Regions from separate parts of the Homo sapiens genome. Here region 2 is reported to be linked to region 1. The links are microRNA targets in miRTarBase. Many come from high-throughput screens and were not tested one by one. Region 1 holds a microRNA gene; the other region holds the end of a gene's coding sequence.
Evidence for each region. The annotated mature microRNA hsa-miR-6764-3p reads UCUCUGGUCUUUCCUUGACAG and lies in region 1 at 1,935-1,955, opposite strand. An mRNA with a match to its seed (bases 2 to 7 or 8) in the 3' UTR can be bound and repressed. Matches are read on the target gene's strand: a 7mer-m8 pairs with bases 2 to 8, a 7mer-A1 pairs with bases 2 to 7 and ends in A, and an 8mer does both.

Region 1 (3,000 bases):
CTCTAAGACAATGGGCTATGTGTTTCACCTGATGGGGTCCCTGGCCATTTGTAAATAAATCTCGGATATTAGCTAGTTTGTCATTTATCTTGCAGTCAAGCATACACAAAACAGAAAGACACACAGTATGTTTGCACTTTGAATAAATGAGATTTTGCTGTATCATGGCAGTTTATAAAGTATTCTCAAGTCTGTTATTTGACCTAAGATCCAACATTATAATCGTACATTTAAGAGGTTACAATGTGAGAGGTACTCATTGAGCAGAATTTTCTAATAATCTAATCACCTTGCCGATTTGCACCCAGTGTCCATTTAGAAACATGAAATTAAGCTACTGGCACTCAATTGCCACATTGCTAGCATTTAATAAGGACTCCACTAGATGGAGGAACAAGGGCTCTCAAACCAAATAACCAACGACCACAAGCATTTCCTGTCAGACAAGCCAAGGTCCTGCTGGAGCTGCCTCTGAAGGCAGCCGGCTGATGGACAGGCCTGGTCTTCCCTCTGTGTGCCCCACTGCCAGGTGGCACCTTACCCTGCGCAGGCGCTCAGCCTGCGCGGTGGTACAGATGCTTCACTCACACTTGCCGGGGGCTAAAATCACAGCCTATGACCAACCTGGCCTGGGGTGTTCTGAGGTAGTTCCTGAACTCGGGATGCCTGTTACCTACTCTCTTTCAGAAGTCAGGACATGTAGGAAGTATTAAAATATCCATGCATCGCTTTCATCAATAATCACTGTAATTGAGTGCAAAATAAAGGAAACTTGAGTTGCTTTATTTAGCTTCCAATTTCTGGGAGGCTCAAGAATTATAAGTATTCTGGACAACAAAAGAAAATAAGACTGTGCTTACAGATCTTGTTCTGCCATATTCTTGCTTTAGGATTGCTATTTTATTGTTGCCCTTTCTGTTACATGGGATGTACACATCAGGTGTTAAAAGGTACAATACATTCTACAACTGAGCACCACTTTCTGTAACTGAACAGGCAAAGAAATTACACTGAACATCAGCATCTGGCAGTATTTTTTTGGAAAAAAAAAGTGACTAAAATGGGTTTAAATTGATTAACACTATTAAATCACATCTAATATTTGATACTACATGATTCAATACAGCTATACGATACAATTATACAAAATGTGTTAACATCAAAGAATACAACCAAAATTAAGATAGCAAACAAAACCTATATAACTTTTTTTTTTTTACAGGAAAATACTTTTGAAGTATGCATGTAACTGCCCATTCTTTTAAAGAAAATCTACTGCAAGCAAAGTTATCAACCTCCAGAAAAATCACACGTAGCATTACTAAGCATATCCCCAAAAAAGTGTACAATATGCACACTTGGAAAATACAAAATTAAAAAAATTGTAAGCAACAGGTGAGCTTCATATTTATAAGAATGTGAAAAGAAGTCCCATTTTTAGCACTGTTGTATAAAGAATTGTCTTTTGATGCGAAGTTCATGAATTGTCCTCCTGTTGGGACCACACTTTACAAAAACACTGTGTTTTTGAAACGAGATTACAGAGCAAGATAGAGCATCTTAGCAATGTCATCTTAGTAAAGTTTTTTTTTTTTAATTTTTACTACTTTATCAAAACATGTCCCTTAGGTGTGTAGGATTCATTTTTAAAATTCTTCCTAGAAATAATATACAAAGGAGAGGCATATTTATTCCCAATCACACTTCTGGAAGATGCTTCCCGTGGTCGAGAAGGGTCTTCTCTCTTCTTTTCACTGGTTGTTTTTGGCCTTAGCATGTGTTAAGATGTGAGATTTCAGGTTAGTTGACTGAGCAAACTTCTTATTACAACCATCGAAGGGGCACACATAGGGCCTGTCTCCGGTATGGATTCGCACATGTGTGCGCAAATTGAAGTCCAGTGAAAAGCGTTTCCCACAGCCTTCGAACGTGCACTGTCAAGGAAAGACCAGAGATCAACCCACTCAGCAACTCTGACCAGACCCTGGGAGTCAGGAGCTCACTGCTTTGCTAGAGAACAGCCTATTTATTTTACCAAACACTTTTCATTCCTGCCCTGGGTGAACTTTGTGGATATAGTCTAGAATCAGCAGGCAGGTTGGACAACCCCGAAAACCCAAGGAGAGCCCTCACGAACTGTTTAAAACACTTGGCAAAATGGCAAGTCTTCCTAAATGCAGGCTAGAGTCCTAGTGCTGCTGTAAACATTTCCAACAGTAAAATACAAATGATTAAGGGTTCTGGTGTCAGTTGTCAAAAAAGAACCACGTTAGATTTACTAGCTGCACTGCTAGTTCTTTCACTTATTTATGGGCTAAAGTATTACCTATACTTACACTCTAGAAACTTTATCAGTTAGTAATTATACTATTAACTACCAAAAATAAATTACTTCAATCCTGTAATGAATGAAGTAGAAATTGAGTTTTAGGTATGCTCTTCAATCCTGTTCTCCTCCTGCCATAAAGTGTACTCCATCAACACCAATACATTGCGTACCCAGTACCACAGAGTATAGACAAGGATGTCCAGAGCCCCGGCAACCCTTCTAAGCGACTCCCCAGGAGAAGTTTTGTTTCTCACCAAGGAGTAATAAGACCCTGAGTCTCTGGGCTGGCGCCTCCTGCCTCATCACCACACCACCTACACTTGCAGTGTTCAGACAGGCAAGGCAGTGTGGGGAAGAGAGGGAACTGGCTCTACCTGAAAGGGCTTCTCTCCAGTATGAACCAGTTGGTGTCGTTTTAGTTTTGAACTCTCAACAAAAGCTTTGCCACATTCTGCACAGACGTGGACTCTGGGACCGTGGGTGTGCAGATGTTTTCTCATGGCCGAGTTATCCCTGAACATCTTTGTGCAGCCCTTAAAACAGAGAAAGCAGCTTAGAAGTTCACATTGCAAACTGTTAGAAAGGATTCAACCATTTAACAGCCTTTACTGACATATTAAAACAAAACCACCTCCCCAACCCCCCATTTTAATTTTACTTAGTATTACGGT
Region 2 (3,000 bases), not on the chromosome of region 1:
ATCATATTGTCACCGAGTATTATTTCTTTTTCTCTTTAATTCACATCTGTCAATTATTTTGGTATTCTTCTTGCTCTGGTTATGTATTCCAATCCAGTGTTTGGGGTACAGAGACCTCTTCTTTCTTACCTGAGACACACTTTGGGGTTGTAGAAGAAAATGAATTAAGCAATTCACAGTAAGCTTCAGTTTGGGAGGAGTGGAACAGTGTGGGCTCTAGAGGAATTCAGACCAGCAGTCTAGTTCCAGCCCTATCACTTACTAGCTGTGTGAACTTGGGCACATTAATAAACTCTATGAGCCTCAGGCTCTACATCTGTGAAATGAGCTTGATAAGCCTTGTCTTGTAGGACTGGTGGAATGTGGTGAAAGTGTGCAAAGCCCTGGTGTGCATTGAGACTTTAAACAATACTTGTTATTACTAAGATTATTTCAACTACAGAAGAAATCATCCACCCTGCTGATTTTCTTTAAGTCCAAGAGATAACAAAGAATATACAGCATTCTAAGACATGGAACAATAAAATCAGCCCAAAACGCAGCTTACAAAGAAACTCTAAATAACTTTTCCATATTAAATCATATTTTGAGTGTGGAGTTGTCTTTCTCAGCTGAAAGCAACTCAAACCTTCTAGGCTTTGGTTCAAGGACCAACTCTGACCTTTCATCCAAACCAGTCTTATTTTCATTCATTTTACCACCATCAAAAATCTAGATCTCCCTTAGAATTTGCAAAAACACATGAAAGGAAAAAAAATTCCTTTTAATGGAATGGGTTCTGGCTCCCCAGCTGATAGCAGAGTATTAGCCCAGTGGCTTATGAGTTTCCAGTCTTAAAGGAGTATCACCTTTATTTCTCAGAAACACCCTGGGGACTACGCTCATAAAACACCTAGTTTGTGTACTGGATTCACTTCACTTGCACTGGGACAAGAGCACCGGCCACTTTCAATCCCTGCTCCAGGCAAAGATCCCCTCTGGTTTTTCCACAATCCCAAAGTAACTGTTAAAGGCAATTTTTCATTCCAGTCTCCATCTCTCAAGTGTGAGATCCACCATCTGAGTGTGTGACCCCTGCTCAGTGCGCCCCATATAGGCACTATGCCAGGACATAAAATTACCTCCTATTGCAGTATGTTCAGTTTCCCGAAGTCTCAGTTACCTTGCTTAGGACATTTACACTAGATTCCACTGCTGGTAATACCCCCACCTTCTTTTTTATCCCCTTTTCACCTGTCTTTAGGTCTTAAGGAGTATCTCATTACCTTCGTTATATGATAGCTGCTGTTGGATTCTAAAATTCTGTGGGCAGGGATTGGGGTTTTTTTGTTGTTTGTTTGTTTTTTGTTTTCTTAGCTTATCCGGTACTAGCCAGGAGCCCTCCAAAGTACAGCTGCTCAATTAATATTTGGACAATTGAAGTGTAAGTGACCAGGAAGTCAAATGTATTGCTATTTAATTTCCCCCACATTCCTGAAAAAGCTAAGCAGATCCGGGTACATATACTTCAGTTTTACAAAGAAAGACTAAAAAGAATAAAACAAAGCAAGAATTGACCACATTTTACTTTTTTTTTCTCTACTTCCTGGTCCCACCAACTTTATTGCAAGGTAATTTCCTTTTCACAAATTCCATATTCCAATGCCATATTATCTTGTTCTAGATCACAGAAAAAGACTTAAAAGATTTTTAAATTGTTTTACATAATGCAAAAATTCTCACTCTCCAACCTGATATATTTTAATAAATGAGTGATTCATGCCATTCATAAACTTAGATTCTGAAACTAAATAAATCTACAATTTAAAAAAAGAACACTGAAAAACAGGAAAAAGAAAAGATAAATCATTTTACATACAAATATGTTATACATGGTGTTCCCACCAACTCCCCTTTGGCTCTCCATTAATTAGAAGGTTAAGTGTTTTCTTAATCAAAAGTAAAGAATATACCTCAGACTTCACAAGGAGTGGGAGACACTGCTGGACACCACACTGAAACATGCCAGGCCCAGTTGCAACACTGTCTCTGGCTCTCTCTCCCTCATCTCTTAAAGTCTTCTCTTAATGGAGGGAAGACAATGGAGACACTGTCATTGACCTTGGCCCAGGCCTCCACATTCTTGAATAATCTAAGCAAACCAGGTATGTAACTTTTAAATTTATGAGCAAAAAAAGACTGAACTGAGTAAGACAAACCACGAATAAAGCAACTTTTACTTTTCTTCCCTTTCTATCTTCAGATTCTACCTATTTTACTGTGGAGTTATTTTAAATTTCTAAGGATAACCTTACTCCCATGCCGTGTTATTTTGCTCTGTATCACAAAAATTATTTCAGGATTTTCTATTTGTATTTCAAAAACAAAATTATTATCACTAAACCAACCTGATAAACAGCAATAAATGTGTGATGCATGCCATTTCTAAATTTATATTCTGAATCTAAATAAACTTTCTATTTTAAGAAACATCATGGAAAATACAACAAAGAGATAAATCAATGAGTTATTCATGCATCACAGGAACAGAGAAAGCAGCAGGTCTTTCAACCACAAAGTGAACAATTTGCCTTAGATCTCACATGGGTTGGGAAGAGCTACTGGATGTGGCCCTGGAATACGCACTAGTCATGGCTGTAGTGCCACGCCTGGCTGCAACTCTGGGCCGGGCTCCAGCTCTCTCTTCTTCATCTCTCAAAGCCTCTTCATAAAGCAGTGGGAAGTTATTGGGGGTGGTGTCATTCACCTTGGCCAAAAACTCCAGGACTTTCATCTTGCTGGTTTCTGCATGAGCTCTTGGACCCCACAGGAATTGATAGCGTGGGGGATCACTGTTGGGCACCTGCTGGTATTCCAGATATTTTTCCTGTACCAGATCTTGGGTGATGAGCTTTCGGGGTTCCCCAAAGATAAGGTGCCTCTTTCCATCATAGATCCCCAGCATATTCAGGAATTCCCAGATTTCCTCTTCACGGGCACAGTTGCCATTTAAGAAGATCA

Region 2: the mRNA of MAGEB4 is a reported target of hsa-miR-6764-3p. Seed matches in the 3' UTR shown: 7mer-A1 at 2,026-2,032.

Annotation. Positions count from the first base shown.
Region 1 is chr14:100,276,352-100,279,351 of GRCh38, reverse strand. It overlaps MIR6764 (microRNA 6764), which reads right to left and starts at 1,995; the gene lies at 1,935-1,995. YY1 (YY1 transcription factor) reads right to left here. Exons shown (of 5, transcript NM_003403.5): 4 at 2,704-2,862; 5 at 1-1,934. The coding sequence ends at 1,752. It also overlaps a transcript of SLC25A29 not described here. RefSeq lists an enhancer at 39-1,019.
Region 2 is chrX:30,242,755-30,245,754 of GRCh38, reverse strand. It overlaps MAGEB4 (MAGE family member B4), which reads right to left. Exons shown (of 1, transcript NM_002367.4): 1 at 1,568-3,000. The coding sequence ends at 2,579. It also overlaps a transcript of MAGEB1 not described here. Among named protein-coding and RNA genes, the nearest start is that of MAGEB4, 2.3 kb to the right of the region's middle.